2 separate regions of the Homo sapiens genome follow, and region 1 is linked to region 2. A link means that fine-mapping ties the variant in region 2 to the expression of a gene that starts in the linked region. Tissue or cell type: whole blood. Region 2 holds a variant in brackets; the other region holds the start of a gene. All regions are shown on one strand. Distances are from middle to middle.

Region 1 (8,104 bases), 300 kb before region 2:
CGCCAACAATGTCACCCACCTTGTCTTCCATCACTCAGGTATGCGTGGCTGCCTTCCCTGCATGTCTGTCTCCCTTCCCTTTTCTCCTGCCATGTTGTTTCCCTCCCACCCTCCTTTCCTGAAATACCTACTCTATACTCATCCCCTTCCATTCCTCTGTCCTCCGCCTGCCCCATCTTTTATCCATCTTGTCTCCTCTTGCTTCACAGTGCAAACCCAAACGCTGTGGTTAAGCTTTTTTAGCTTCAAACCCTGGCTCCACCTCTTACTAGCAGTCACCTTGGACAAGTTATTTAATTTCTATAAGCCTCAGTATTTTCATTTCTAAAACAAGGATGGTTCATAAGGATCAAATGAAGTAACATACATAAAATACTTAGCACCACACATAGCCCAGGTATGCTTGACAAATAGTAGCTTACCCTTTCCTTTTATTTGCCTCCTCTGTTCCTGTCTGTTTTATATCTGTCTTTTATCTCATGCCTCTATCTTGTCCCGTCTCCTCCCCTGTATCCCCTCCTAATTTCATAGAATTCGTAGAATCAGTCAATTTCCTACTGTGGAGCCCAATTCCTTCACTTAATAGATGAGGAAAGTGGGACCTAGAGGGAAAGTGACTTTTCCAAGTTTACCCAGCAAGTTAGGAAGAGTTGAGACTAGAACTCGAAGCTCTTAGTTTAGGGCTTTTTCCACAGAGATGAAATTCTTAGCCCTTGTCTCCCTTCCTGTCCTTTTCTTCTTGTTCTCTATCTCTACTCCTCTTTTCTTTCATCCAAATGCTCTTTTCCCTCTCCTCTGCCCAACTTTTCCTCCTCCATTGCTATCCCTGGAATGTGTGTTCTGTGTTCCATCTTTACTCAGGTCCCCTCTTTTGTAGGAAAGACTGAGGCCAGATTAGCAAGGGCTCTGTTCCCAGAGTGTGGAGTGAGCTTGACTTCCCTTCCTTTCTTTCTCCTTTTCTTTCTTTCTTTTCCCACCCCCTCTGGCCTCTTCAAGGCTGTAGAACAGCAGTTCTCAACCTTAGTTCCTTATTTACTAACAATAAATAGTTCAAGTATCAAGATTTAAGAATGGTTTACTTCTAAGGCTAGGCACAGTGGCTTATGCCTGTAATCCCAGCACTTTGGGAGGCCAAGGCGGGAGTTCAAAACTAGCCTGGTCAATATGGTGAGACCCAGTCTCTACAACAAATAAAAAATTACCCAGGTGCAGTCGCGCACGCTTGTAGTCCTGGCTACTGGGGAGGCTGAGATGGGAGGATCACTTGAACCAGGAAGGTTGATGCTACAGTTCCAACTATGATTGCACCACTGTACTCCAGCCTGGGCAACAGAGTGAGGCCCTGTCTCAAAAAAAGAGAATAGTTTACTTCTGGAGTAGATTTAAAATTACCCCTGTGTTAGCCTCACTATATCACTTTCATTCTGATAGGCACTTTTTTTTTTTTGGAGACGGAGTCTCGCTCTGTTGCCCAGGCTGAAGTGCAGTGGTGTGATCTTGGCTCACTGCAACCTCCCACTTCCTGGGTTCAAGCAATTCTCCTGTCTCAGCCACCCGAATAGCTGGGACTACAGACGCCTGCTACCATGCCCAGCTAATTTTTATATTTTTAGTAGAGACGGGGTTTCACCATGTTGGCCAGGCTGGTCTCGAACTCCTGACCTCAGGTGATCCACCTGCCTTGGGCCTCCCAAAGTGCTGGGATTACAGGCATGAGCCACCACACCCTGCCAACTAATACACATCCCTGGGGTTGAGTAACTGCACTCAACCCCAGGGATGCCCGTGAGAATGTGGAATGTTGTCATGTTTGTTTTGGGAATGGTTGTAGCTAAAGAAGGTGGGAAGCTCTGACTGAGAGTTCTTGGGGTATACACTGAGCAGTAAGCTTCCCTCTTTTTACTTCTTTTCAGGGCGTCCCCCTGGATACCAGTAAACTGTCCACTGACCAGCGGTTACCCCCATACCCATACAGCTCCCCAAGTCTGGTTCTGCCTACCCAGCCCCACACCCCAAAGTCTCTACAGCAGCCAGGGCTGCCCTCTCAGTCTTGTTCAGTGCAGTCCTCAGGTGGGCAGCCCCCAGGCAGGCAGTCTCATTATGGGACACCGTACCCACCTGGGCCCAGTGGGCATGGGCAACAGTCTTACCACCGGCCAATGAGTGACTTCAACCTGGGGAATGTGAGTACTCAGGCTCCTTGCTCAAAAGCAGGGGAGTGGGTGAGGGTGGGTCAATGGGGCCTGAATGGCATGGCTGGTGCACTGTGAATGGGGAGATCTAGGTGGGGTGGGTGGTGGGGAGATCTCCTCTCCCCGGAGGTAACATAGCACTGCCAGCTTGGGGCTCCTCTCTTCCTGCGTTTGACCCTACTCCTGCCCCTCTATTTCTGCTCAGCTTGCTCTTTGATGACTTCTGCCTTGACCCGTTCTCTTCCTGGCATGCACATGCTCTGGCCCAGCAGGTACGGTGCCCATACTTACTTCGGGCCCCGTGCTCGCTTCTGTCGCTCTGCTTGCTGCCACCTCCCTCTGTCATTGCCTCTGTTCCTGGGGTGGATGAAGGTTGCTGGGCAAAGGGGATATGTTAGCAGGGCTAGGCAGGACACCAGTTCTAAATCCTACTTCCTAAAGATTTGTCTGTATGTCTATAGCTGGAGCAGTTCAGCATGGAGAGCCCATCAGCCAGCCTGGTGCTGGATCCCCCTGGCTTTTCTGAAGGGCCTGGATTTTTAGGGGGTGAGGGGCCAATGGGTGGCCCCCAGGATCCCCACACCTTCAACCACCAGAACTTGACCCACTGTTCCCGCCATGGCTCAGGGCCTAACATCATCCTCACAGGTGAATGGGGGTGGGTGGTGATGGGAAATGGAAGGAGGAAGTGACACATTCACTAATGAGTAGGAGATTGAGGGGTCTTGGAAAAGTTTACAGGACATGGGGTCCTCACCTGTCTCTTCTACCCACAGGGGACTCCTCTCCAGGTTTCTCTAAGGAGATTGCAGCAGCCCTGGCCGGAGTGCCTGGCTTTGAGGTGTCAGCAGCTGGATTGGAGCTAGGGCTTGGGCTAGAAGATGAGCTGCGCATGGAGCCACTGGGCCTGGAAGGGCTAAACATGCTGAGTGACCCCTGTGCCCTGCTGCCTGATCCTGCTGTGGAGGAGTCATTCCGCAGTGACCGGCTCCAATGAGGGCACCTCATCACCATCCCTCTTCTTGGCCCCATCCCCCACCACCATTCCTTTCCTCCCTTCCCCCTGGCAGGTAGAGACTCTACTCTCTGTCCCCAGATCCTCTTTCTAGCATGAATGAAGGATGCCAAGAATGAGAAAAAGCAAGGGGTTTGTCCAGGTGGCCCCTGAATTCTGCGCAAGGGATGGGCCTGGGGGAACTCAAGGGAGGGCCTAAAGCACTTGTAACTTTGAACCGTCTGTCTGGAGGTCAGAGCCTGTTGGAAAGCAGGGGTAGAGGGGAGCCCTGGAAGCAGGGCTTTTCCGGATGCCTAGGGGTGGGCAGTGCCAGCCCCTCCTCACCACTCTTCCCCTTGCAGTGGAGGAGAGAGCCAGAGTGGATACTATTTTTTATTAAATATATTATTATATGTTAATAAAAAAATCATATCAAACCCTTGGTGTGGTTAGTTATTTGGGGCATGGCTGGGGATCTAGGGAGTTATAGGGCCATGGGTCTTTTTATCTATTAGGCTTTTTGCATCTTCTTAGCACCACTGTGCTTTGTGGAAGGGCCCCACAGCCTCGGAATTTGTACCCAGCTGGATGTAGGCTTCCACGGCAGCAGGAAATCACTTCATGTGCCCTCCTGTCTGTCCAGGGCCCTGCTGCAGCATCAGATGGGGGCTTTGACTGATCAGACAAGTTATTCCTCTTCCTCAACCCTAGGTCTGGCAGTGAGTCGGGTAAGGAGGTGATTGCTGGCTGAGCCCACAGGTCTGAAGTGCTCCTAGGTCTCAGGGAAGCAAGCCTTCATCCTCACTCCCTCACTATGCATGCATTCACTTCACCCTCTCCACTCTTCACCACTCATTCATTTTAGTTTTAATTAAACAGATCCTTCAGTGCCATGCATGTTCTGAAGGTTTTCTCTTTCTGGATTGGGTTGCCAGCCCTTGGACCAGCCGTGTGGGCCTCTGCACCCCTCACTCCCCCAACCCGCATAGTGAGAAAAGTAGAGCCCCGCAGTTACCTTACCCCCACCTCCACTGCTCTATTCCACACCCTGCAGTCCTGGCCTCTCTTCCTCTTTCCAAAGCTCTTGTCATTTTCAAAAAAGAGAACTGAGAGCTTCTGGTTCTGGTCCAAAGGGAATGCCCTGTGCCCTAAACCTGGAAGTAGGGGGAGCCACCTGGGTCCCCGTAGACTAGACCTTCGGGACTTCACCTGCGCCCACATCATGCTTGCCACATCTGACTGCAGGACCCAGGCGGGAAGGGAGCGCGCCGCGGCCCTCTGGGTCGCCTGGGGTCAGTGTCCTGAGGCACGGGCTGGATGGTGGGAAGCTACCTGGGTGCAGGGGGCCCTCCCAGCCGCCAGGGGTCGGGCTGCAGGCGGCTGGGCTTTGGGCAGACGCTTGCCAGGGTCACGGCCGCCGGCCGAGGAGGAGGGGTGGGGGTAGCGGCGGCGCCCGCGGCCCGGAGCGGGGGTTGGGGGAGTAGAGAAAGCGGGGCGCGCGGAGGAACGCTGGGTCCCCGGCGCCGCGGGAGCTGGGAGGACCGAGCCGGCCGAGCGAGCAGCGCGGCAGCACAGTCCCCGCGTGGCGCAGCGCGGCGGGGACGCGGGGACCGCCCGGATCTCCTTCCACTGCGCCCCGCGCTCTGCGGTCCTCGGCCGCCTCTTCTTCCTTCACTCACTGCCCGGGCGGGAGCGGCGCCCAAGTCGGGTGCGCCATGTCTGGGGCCGGGTAGCCCCGCCGCCCGCCGGCCCGCCAGCTCGCCCTCCGAGCCACCCGCCAGCGGGCCGGCCGGCCGGGAAGCGCGGGACAGGCAGGTAGGGGCTGGACCGGGCTGGGCGGCAGGCGGGGACGGGCAGGAGGGAGCGCGGGCGGCAGGCGGGGTGGGGGATGGCCCCCAGCTGCTGTCCCTCACTGCACATCTGGTTCCGGTTCCTCTCTCCTGGGGAAGTGAAAGTGGAGGGGAGGGCACCTCCCGCAATTAGCTCGCCGTGCCCGGCCTCCTGCACCCCCTTCTGCTCCCGTGGGTGCCGGAGTCGGAGCCGCCCTCCCTCCCGCTTGGGTCACGCGGCGGCCGGCGCTGCTGCCGTCACGTCCTCGGCCGCCGGCGCGCCTGCTTCTCTGCCCTCCTGCTCCTTCCTCAGCCTCCTCCCCCTCGGCGCGCCCTCTGCCCCAACCCGAACTTCCCGTCACCCGGCACGCGGGCGTGGGGACCCGGAGTGGGCCCTGTGCCCGTTGTCTTCCCTAGGGAGAAAGGGCTGCTTTCTGCAGGACTCTTCCCTGGCTTGGTGAGGGGAGGCCCCGGTGCGCAGGTCCTGCGGATGGGTGCCACCCACTTGCCCCTCAGAAGGTCCCACCTAATGGCCTCTGCCTGCTGCCTTGGGCATAGGGCTCCCATTCGCCCTCAGTGGATGAGGGACAGGTCTGTGCCCCAGAATTAAATCAAGAGGCTGACGCTGACTCCTGGCTTTACCTCCCAGAAGTGGAGTCTAAATTTAGCTGGGGTTGGTGTGTGTACGTGTGTGCGTGTGTGTGTGCGTGTGTGTGTGTGTGTGTGTGTCCAGAGGCCAGGTGATGAAGAAAGCCAGCCTGGCTCTATGAGATTCCTTATTCCCTGTTCTCTGGGGGAACAGCAGGAGGTTAGCAGGACTGCACATCCTGGAACCATTCTGAGCCTCCTCTGCCTTGCTCAGGATCCTATAGTCTGAGATTCCAACTTGGCGTAATGCTGTGCTGGCACCTTCAATGGTAACCCCACCACCGCCACCGCCACCACACACACCCATAGGCTGACTTCCTCTGAGTTGCAGCTTCCCCTCCACTGTTTCAGGAAGTAACCTCCCTTCCCCTCTGAAGCACCCCCCACGCTTCTGGGCCCCTGCTGCGAGCTACCCACCAGGCTTTTTCCCAGCTTCTGCACCCTGGGGCGCCTCAGGACCCTTGGGGCTCCTACTCCCCGGGGTTGGGCCATGGAGGCAGGTGAGAACTAGGCTGTTGTGGGCCTGTTTCTGTCTCTGGGCTCCATGGTGGAGGGTGTGGGATGGCCGGGACTTGTCTCTCACAACTGCTTTGGATCTAACGAGCTACCTAAGGATCCTGGAGGTGTGAGAACACTGGATTTTGGGCCAGATTGGTGGAGTTAAGCTAGGAGAAAGGACACTTGGGTTCGTTGAAAAGACTCTTAAAGCTTGGGTTTTGTGGGCTTTCTCAGAAACCCATGGGGTCCTCTTAAAAACCTAGGAGTGGGCTCTTTAAGAACATTGGCAGGATCACAAGGTTCTTATGGTGTCATAACTAGAGTAGGAAGGTCAGAAACCCTTGAAAAGACTGTAAGGTTGGTATGATGTCATGGCCAGCATGAATGATGTCATGGAAGGCTATTACAAAAAAGATTGTGATCTCTGTGATGTTATAACTGGTGAGCCTTTAAAAGGGACACATGGACAATGTGAATGTCATAGCTCAGGTTAGCTGTGTGTGGTGGAGTTTAGGTTCTTTGAGGGGAGTGCCAGGACCATTAAGTGGGAGGGATCTGGTCTCTTTAAGAAGCTGTGGTGGGCAGTGATGTCACAGGGGGAAGAGTTCAGGATTGGCCGACCCCTTATCCTGCCTTTCTTTGGAAGGACTAGGAAGAGGAGGGGAGCAAGAGGGTACCCTGGTTGCCATGGCATCCCCAGCCTTCCTTGCTTCATCTCTCTCCCACTTGACCATTCCAGATGCAGTGAGTGAGGGGGGGGCCATGGCGGAGGAGCGGCCCCCCCGGCTGGTGGATTACTTCGTGGTAGCTGGGCTTGCAGGGAACGGAGCACCCATCCCTGAGGAAACGTGGGTTCCTGAACCCAGTGGGCCCCTGCGCCCTCCCCGGCCAGCTGAGCCCATCACAGATGTGGCAGTCATCGCTAGGGCACTGGGCGAGGAAGTGCCCCAGGGCTACACATGCATCCAGGCTTCTGCTGGGGGCCACCCCTTGGAACTCAGTGCTGGACTTCTGGGTGGAACTCAACCCGTCATCTGCTACCGCAGGGGCCGTGACAAGCCCCCCCTCGTTGAGCTGGGGTGTGTGCCCCTACCCATGCTGGCACCAGGGGAGGCTGGGAGGGACTCCAGTGAGACAGGGAGAGGTAGGACTATGGAACAAGGGAAGGGCAATGGGGATGGGAGCCTGGTGGGCCAGGGGCCAGGAAGGAAGGACTGAAGTTGTATGTACTTAGTCCTTACAGATGCGATTTCATGTGCTAGTGCTGCTCCTTGCTAGCTCTGAGAGCTTAGGCAGGTTTTTGAGCTCCTCTGGGCCTGTTTTCCTCATCTGTCAAATGGGGAAAATAATTCATCCTCATAGGATGGTCGAGATTAAATGAGATAACCCATGTGACAGACTTAACAGAGTCAGTCAGTGGTAGCTTGTATAACTATTTTTTTTTTTTTTTTTTTTTTTATAGACAGAGTCTCTCTCTGTCACTCAGGCTGGAGTGCAGTGGTGTGATCTTGGCTCACTGCAACCTTCGCCTCCTGGGTTCAGGCAATTCTCCTGCCTCAGCTTCCTGAGTAGCTGAGACTATAGGCATGTGCCACCACGTCCAGCTAATTTTTGAATTTTTAGTAGAGATGGGGTTTGACCATGTTGGCCAGGCTGGTCCTGAACCCCTGACCTCAGGTGATCCACCTGCCTTGGCCTCCCAAAGTGCTGGGATTATAGGCATGAGCCACCGTGCCCAGCTGACCCTTAGTGTTTATTAATGAGTATGAGAGCCATAGAAGGCATGCAGGATTGTTGCTGACCATGAAATAAGGCCAAAGGCCAAAGAAAGGGCACAGGATTCTGGAGGGCAGAGTTCAGCAAGAAGAGGTGGGCCCTAGTGTTAGAGTTTGACAAGGCTGTGGGTACAAGGCAAGTTCAGGGGATTAGATAGGCAGATCTGG
Region 2 (8,104 bases):
CTTTGGGAGGCCGAAGCAGATGGATCACGAGGTCAGGAGATCGATACCATCCTAGCCAACATGGTGAAACCTCGTCTCTACTAAAAATACAAAAATTAGCTGGGTGTGGTGGCGCATGCCTGTAATCCCAGCTACTCAGGAGGCTGAGGCAGAATTGCTTGAACCAGGGAGTTGGAGTTTTCAGTGAGCCAAGATTGCACCACTGCATTCCAGCCAGGCAACAGAGCGAGACTCCATCTCAAAAAACAAAACAAAACAAAAAAACAAACCAAGACTAAATGGAGCATTTAGTGAATCCTTTAAAGAGACCTCATGGGGATCTTAGCTGTCCCAGGCTGCCCACACAATGAGGCCTATGACTGGGGGCTGCTGCCACCATTAAGGGTCCCAGAGCTGTCCAGGGCCTGTCTCCACCTTCAAGAGTCATCCTGCCCTGCTTCACAATGCTCCCCTCTCCTTCCTTCCTTGCCCCTGGTACAGGTGGTCAGCCAGGGTCCCCAGCACGTCTGACTGGGTCACTAGCCAGGGTGTGACGCAGGTGGGAGAGCCCACCGAGGCATAAGTGGGAGCCTCTACCCTAACCCCTGCTGGGTCCATGGAGCTATCTATTCATAGCAGCAGGACCACCTTTTTTTTTTCGAGATGGAGTTTCACTCTTGTTGCCCAGGCTGGAGTGCAATGGCGCCATCTCGGCTCACTGCAACCTCCGCCTCCCGGGTTCAAGTGATTCTTCTGTCTCAGCCTCCCGAGTAGCTGGGATTACAGGCATGTGCCACCACGCCCAGCTTATTTCATATTTTTAGTAGATACGGGGTTTCTCCATGTTGGTCAGGCTGGTCTCAAACTCCCGACCTCAGGTGATCTACCCGCCTCGGCCTCCCAAAGTGCTGGGATTACAGGCGTAAGCCACTGTGCCCAGCCTCAGGTGTTCTTTTAGCACTGTACCTTTACACTTGGTTCCCTCTGCTTGGTGTATTTTCTCTACTTTCCCTTGTCTTAAAAGATCCAGCTCATCAACCTCTTCCCTATGCTCCTAATGTTACCCTTACAAAGGATGCCTTGTGTTGGTATGGCAAGCCCTCAGCACATGGCAGCTGAATGAAAGGCTGACCCAGAGGAGGTCAGGTTTACTCACCTTGTCCCACACGACCAGTGACTGAGGATGACAGGGACACAGGCCTCAGGAGACCCTGGGAACTGTAGTGAGCAGTAGGTGGGGCTGGAGGACCCTTGGCTGATAGGAGAGTTCCCTGTGCCCCACATAAGCGATTTGGGGATAAATTCTTTCAATGAAGTAGGAAGGACATGGAGGTAGAAGGAAGGAAGCCTAGGCTACGGCAGTCACCTCCTTTATAGAGAACTCTTAAGCATCAGTCTCCTCTGGGGTAGGAGGGAGCCTGGCATTTTGCACTTGTTTGGGTTGTTGGGGAGGTTGGCTGGGAGGGGAAGTCCTCATGCTTTAGCACTGGAAAAGGCAGAAGGAGCTGAACTGGGGATTCAGTTCTGCAGTCACCGTCCAACCTGTAGCCTTCTGCTAGACCCCCACTGCCCATCTCCCTTGGGACCTACAGACACCCCACATCACAGGATTCAAGTTTGGGTTGTCCTGACCAAAATTTCCTTCCCAGCCCCCAGTAAGTACAACCTCCTGGCAGTTTAGGGTGAAAGGCAGCCCAATGACAACTGGCTTGGCTGGGCGCTACTAGGTTCTTTTCTCTTCAGCTCTCAACATAGGGAAAAAGGGAAATATGTGCCAGGGCCCAAGGGCCCAGAATGTTGCCCAAGACAATCTTCCTTGAGTTTTTGTGGGCGTGGTGTTATTTCTGCAGAGCTCAGAGGAAGTCAAATTCTTCACTTTCTGCTCAAAGCCACAGGCTCTCCAGAATTTTAACACAAGTAAGAAGAAAGAAACTCTCAACCATACAAGGGGTATATCAAGACATCATTAAAGTGGCTGGGTGCAGTGGGTCACGCCTGTAATCCCTGCACTTTGGGAGGCTGAAAGTGGGTCACGCCTGTAATCCCTGCATTTTGGGAGGCTGAAGCGGGTGGATCACCAAGTCAAGAGATCAAGACCATCCTGGCCAACATGGTGAAACCCCATCTCTACTAAAAATACAAAAATTAGCTGGGTGTGGTGGCACATGTCTGTAGTCACAGCCACCCGGGAGGCTGAGGCAGGAGAATCGCTTGAACCAGAGAGTTGGAGGTTGCAGAGCCAAGATCGCGCCACTGCACTCCAGCCTGGTGACAGGAGCGAGACTCGGTCACAAGAAAAAAAAAAAAAAACATCATTAAAGTAGCCATGGCATTTTGAGGCACCTCAAATAAAGAGAGTCCTGGGTGGATTTAAGCGAACAGTTTGTTATAATGAACCAGAAATACAAGATTCCACTGAAACTGAACAGTTGACAGAATATGGTTGAACTTAAACCTTCAAGGGAAACAAGGGCAAAACAAAGCTAATGAGTGGAAAAGTCCAAGATTAGTTTGGGATAAACATGAGGATATAATTGCATTTTAGCATGGCTATCTTCTGACCTCTTCCAGCAGTTCGTCTGCCATCATTCTCCCTTCTGACACACCTACCAAATCAAATGGCTTCTGATCCTCTATATTGCAGTATAAACCAACCCTATAGTACCCCTCTGGTCATGATACAAACCCAGAAGGAAAGTCTGTAAATCTCATACAAAGGTAGAAAGTGCAATTCAACCCAACACGCTGGTTATGGTATATGTGCTGTCAATGTACATGGTAGCAACTTGAATCAAACCAGAGCTGCTACCACATGTAAGCAACCTCTTATGCTGCCCTGTAGTGATGTCAATGTTCTCAGTTTACTAAATTATCAATGTGGAAGAACGCATTTTTGAGCTCCAGACCTTCTAAACATTTTAAACAGGCTATCGAAGAGGATGTAACAGAACCCTATTTCAGAAACCTAAGGATCAGGGAGGAAGGAACACTGACCGGTTTTTCTGGGATGTTTCTGTGGGGGCAACAGGGATGAACAAAAGAAATGTTAGCATGTCAGAGCATATGACAAGTGAGGGGAGACAGAGGTAGGAAGAGGGTGTTCTAGCCACAAGGCTAATGCATTTGTGTTCAAAGAGAAGTCTGGGCAAAGGAGGGGAAACCCCCCCTCCCCCCTAAAAAAACAAAAACAAAAAACCAAATCAAAGGACAAAAGGGTTTCATACAACACAGTATCAAAAAGTAAAAGGAACACACTAAATGCACAAGCTGGTGGCAAGTAAGTCCACAGCCTATTGTGATAGGTCCATCCAGCATCAATCAGATTTCTTCTCATCTGTTATCTCAAGGTTATTTACAGATGTGTTGACTAACAAGAGTCTCTCATGGGAGGATGGGCA[G/A]GCTTCAATCATTGGTTTCGGGATCTGTCTGCGCCATGTAGGCATCCAACTCAGCATCCAGGTGTCCTTTTGTTTTCGACATATATGCATCCAATTGGTTGTCCAGCTGCTCCTTGGTCAATACAGGGCGAGCAAGGGCACCTCTCCCTCGTCCACGGCCTCGGCCTCGGCCTCCAAAGCCCCCTCTTCCCCGACCTATCATACCCCGACCTGGCCCAAAGGGGAAAAAAAAAAAAAAAGAGACAGTTACAAGTAAGTTTAATAGGTGCTGTAGTAAATGCCCCTTAGAGCAGTGGGGCCTAGCTGAGAAAAGCTGAAGGGCAGGGCAAAGAGGAGAAATCTGGAAAAAAAGGAAACACAATGGGTAGAAAGCAACACATGGAAAGCACACATAATGAATCCTCTATCACATGATCATCTCTAAATGCTATTTTAACAAATTTTATTCTATCAATAAAGGAAAATAATTAACTGGCAACTATAATTTTAAAAAACCTTAATCAATCCTAAGATAAAATTACCTAACATTTGAGATTCACTAAGTTCATAATTAAAATACATGACAGATAACCCCATTTGGTAAGATAGGGAGGTGGTAACAAGAGCACAGAGCATCAGGGGTGTGAAGACAAGACAGTTTTCAAATTAAGTTTATTGGAGACCCTTCTGGAAAGTCATCTCACCTGTCCTTAAACTTATCAAGTCTAATGAGCTAGCTGACCTCATGTGTCAGGAGACTGAGTTTTTCTGACACAGGAACAATGTAGGGGAGATTTGAAAAAATATTTTGAGTTGTCCTAGCTATTTCTACCTTTAATTCTAGTTACCTTATGACAACTGACAATTGTGGTTATCTGAGAAGCAGTGTGAATTCAGTTAACAAAACAAACTCAGCTTTTTGAAAAGCTATTTTAGTCTCTCCCACCCTCGTGATGTCTCTCAGGATCCAAGTCAAGATAATTTGGAAACATGTTATTTCATCCTGAAACCCAAACTAGCTTGCACTTCACTCAGTAAGTATCATATAATGGGAGAGAAGAAAACAAGCCCTTGGTTATCAACTTTTCTTTCCTAACAGTTATTATTCCTTGGCAACTTCAAGGTCATAAGTTATGGAAGACCCAAGACACCTTTTAAGAGAACCAAAGCAAATATACACAGGGGCTTCAATAGTGTTTTTTTTCTGGACAGGTGTTGGGAGTTTTCCACTAAGCTCTAAACCAGAAGGCTCCCATGAGATTTAGTATTAACAGCAGCAACATCATTAAACTCTTTCCCAATCTGGGTCATGAGGTCACAAGACAAACATCAATAAATTTCAAAGGCAAGATTATCAATAAGAGCCAGTTAGTTAACTGATAATAATTCCATCTTGCTCTCTACCTTAAGCAAAAAAAGTCATCTCTGGTTCTCCACAGGCACCAAATGTGACATTGAATTTATTTGGTTTCAGAGCCAATGCCCAGCTCCAAGTCTCACCACCCTCTTAACTCTACTTCATCTTTGTATCTCTCTCTCTCTTCTATATTCTCATGTGACTCAAACCAGGATTTGGAGCTACAGGGTGGTATGTGGTGGTGATGGTGGTGGGACAGGGGCAGAGAAAGGCAAAACCCTAAACTGACCATTTTGGGGGGTATTTTCAACTATACAATTTAAATTTGCAAGAGCTTGGAGGAAGATGGCATATAATCTGGCTCTATAATATGCACTTGATTGATTCTTGGAAAAATCATGAGACTTTTGCACTACCAGCATGGTAATTTGAAAAATAAGCCAGTTTCAAATAACAAAACAAGACAAACAAAGAAGCCTGCCTATGACTTGAAGCTGTGCAGAAAGGTGGCTCTGAGTTTTTAAGGGAGGAAAGTAAGGGGGAGCTACTCTCTGAAGTTGGTAGCTGACTAACCTCTACCACCGATTCCGCCACGACCCATAGCTCCACGCCCTAGGCCCCCTCTCCCAGGACCTCCACGACCTCGAACACCACCTCTTCTTAAGCCCATTCGGGGAGCTACGGCTCGTCCACCTCGGAGCAGGTTTTGACCTTAGAGAGGAGGCATACAATGTATATGCAGGTAAATCCAAGAGACACAAAGTAGATTCTAACCAAAGGAAGGCGGTGAGGGTTAAATGAAGGTAATTCAGTTAGTTTTTAGGTTGGCTGGGGCAAGCTGCATACTGTGAACAGATTAAGCTACTCTTTATTCAATCAATTCAACAAGTCTGACCACAAATCCATTTTTGGAAGTTGGGAGTTAATTCAATTAGTAAGTACATACATTTAATAAATATCTACTGAATAATCAGATAGATGCCTAGCATTATGGTAAATTTAAAAATAAATGCTATGGTTCCTGATCTCAACAGATTCTTCTAGGGAACAAGAACTATACAGGGAACAGAGTAATAGTGCCCCAAATGAACATATATAGGTAAGTGCTGTGGGTCAACTTGTCCTCTTTTTCCAGCTGTATCAGTGTTTTACTAGCACCAGGAACAAAGAGATATAGGCCAAAAGACCTATAAATTTCTTATGTTTGACTTGTTTCTAGAACTTGAATGTGCTTTGATTCAAGCAACAGCAGGGTGTTTTAAAATGGAATGGAGATGACATGAATTACCTGTTGTTACGCAGGTCATAGCCTCTCACCATTGCACATTATCAGAAAAGGAATGGTATTGATAAAAGACATGCAGCACTATTAAAAATATGTGATTTCAGAAGTTATTATATTAATACAAATTCAGGCTTAAAGATGTTAAACAAACGTGTCCATAAGCAGCCCAAGAGAAAAGGGAAGGGAGTAGGGCCCGACAATTATCAGGGTACACAGCACTGACCTCGGAGTGACATCCCGCCCCTAAGTAGGGTTCTGGTGGCACGTCCCCCACGTAGTCCTCCTCTGGGCAAGCCTCTCTGGATTATGGGTAGGCCTCGTCCTCCGATTGCTCCCCTGGCCAGGGCCCCTATGGGTCGGCCTAACCGTGCCTGGATGTTACTCTTACCCAGGCGCTGCTTTAAGCTCTTCTGGAAGAAAAGGTGTTAGGGGATTGAGATCAAAAAAGCAATCCAACAGGATTTGGCAACTCAAAGTGCAGAGAAAAAGAAGCAAGTGAGATGCTGGTGTGAAGGGAGATAAACCTGTTGTGGGTGTCAAAAGGATCCCAAACCAGAAGCAAGCCTTTGCCTCAGAACATGTTATACAAGCAGCAGAATTTTGATCCAGAGCAGAAACTCCAAGAAGCTCAAGTGTGGTCCCATGAAATGGGCATCTCCACAAATTACCTCACTAGTTTGGCTACAGAAGTCATACACTGCCAGTTGAAACTTAAGTTTTCGTAAGAACATTCTATAGTTCAATCCTGGATTGTACTGCTTTTGAACTACAGGTTGACAATTATATGACTTGATTCATACCTGCCCATGGACTACCACTGTCTTCAAAGGCTTACTCAAACACCATAGGAAGTTCATCACACTCTGGGCAAAACTTAAATTACAAGTTCACTTGAGTTCTTGTGACTTAAGAACAAGATTGATTTCTCAAAAAGGCCCGTGTGCTCCATTTTTCCTCTGAGAATCTATTTCCAGACGGTCCACTTTTTACCTTAAGATGTAAATAAACACAAGAAAGTCAAATCTCCTTTCCTTACATTTCTTAAAAATCCCTAATTCCATGCCTGCACTTGCAAACAGCTCCTTTAAAACAATGATGACCTTAAATTAAAAATAAACATGTAACTCAAATGTATCTCCACAGTCAGCCAGCCAAACGTATGTTAGAATTATTCAGGTGATCACAAAACTCAGGGCCATATATAAGAACAAGGACACACTACAGAGATAGGGTATTTTTAAGAATCTGTTCTCAAAAGAAAACCATTAAGACTACATCTCAGAGAATTAAATTCCTTCAAAGGAAAAAGGGACAGCAATAGCCCTGAACACAACCAAGCTCCTAGTAAGCCTGGCTGTCCATAAAGCCATCAGTCAATCTGAAAGAAAATAAATTGTATAGCCCCTTCAGGCTTCACCCACAAGTGACTACCAACGTGTATGTGTGTGTTTTCTAATCAACCTCTCAAAAAGATGCTGTGAAGCATTATTAACTTTCTAGCACAAGATCATAAATTGCTTCTCATCAGTGGGGAAGGCTCCAAACATTATGCATCTAGCATAAGTAGGTGTAACCAACCGTAACGGCCTGTCCTGTTACTCCCGATTAACACACAATTATCAGGTTAGAACTGCATTCCACAAGTCTCTTGCGTTCAGTTATCCTGCATATATTAATTCTCCCAAGCTTTGTGCTTTAAAAGAACTGTACAGTGCTGGGAAGTTCTTTACCCATTCCAATCCTTAAGTGCCACCAATACCGGCCTTTAATATTAACAGGGAAGTTAAGGATGTCAACTATACCACTTAGTTTCCCTTCTAGAGGTGTGCTGTGTAAGGCAGCCTCTATAGCTACATGTGGCTATTTCAATTATTTTTATTTTGAGATACAGTCTCGCTCTGTTGCCCAGGCTGAAGTGCAGTGACACGATCTTGGCTCACTGCAACCTTCGTCTCCCAGGTTCAAACAATTCTCCTGCCTCAGCCTCCCGAGTAGCTGGGATTACAGGAGCTGTCATCACGCCTGGCTTATTTTTGGTGGAGACGGGGTCTTGTCATGTTGGCCAGGCTGGTCTTGAACTCCTGACCTCAGGTGATCCACCTGCCC

What was found. PIP is the estimated chance that this variant, and not a neighbour inherited with it, causes the effect.
Region 1: DENND4B starts here. The variant in region 2 is fine-mapped to the expression of DENND4B in whole blood (TOPMed, PIP above 0.99).

Annotation. Positions count from the first base shown.
Region 1 is chr1:153,943,194-153,951,297 of GRCh38, reverse strand. DENND4B (DENN domain containing 4B) reads left to right here and starts at 4,580. Exons shown (of 28, transcript NM_014856.3): 1 at 4,580-4,997; 2 at 6,901-7,240. The coding sequence starts at 6,924. CRTC2 (CREB regulated transcription coactivator 2) reads left to right here. Exons shown (of 14, transcript NM_181715.3): 11 at 1-38; 12 at 1,914-2,183; 13 at 2,654-2,840; 14 at 2,969-3,623. The coding sequence ends at 3,189. RefSeq lists enhancers at 4,009-4,078, 4,890-5,390, 5,859-5,908, 6,229-6,328 and a silencer at 4,469-5,368.
Region 2 is chr1:153,640,547-153,648,650 of GRCh38, reverse strand. CHTOP (chromatin target of PRMT1) reads right to left here. Exons shown (of 6, transcript NM_015607.4): 4 at 6,222-6,405; 5 at 5,287-5,424; 6 at 2,345-3,587. The coding sequence ends at 3,382. Among named protein-coding and RNA genes, the nearest start is that of CHTOP, 11 kb to the right of the region's middle. The variant G/A (reference allele first, on the strand shown) is at 3,378.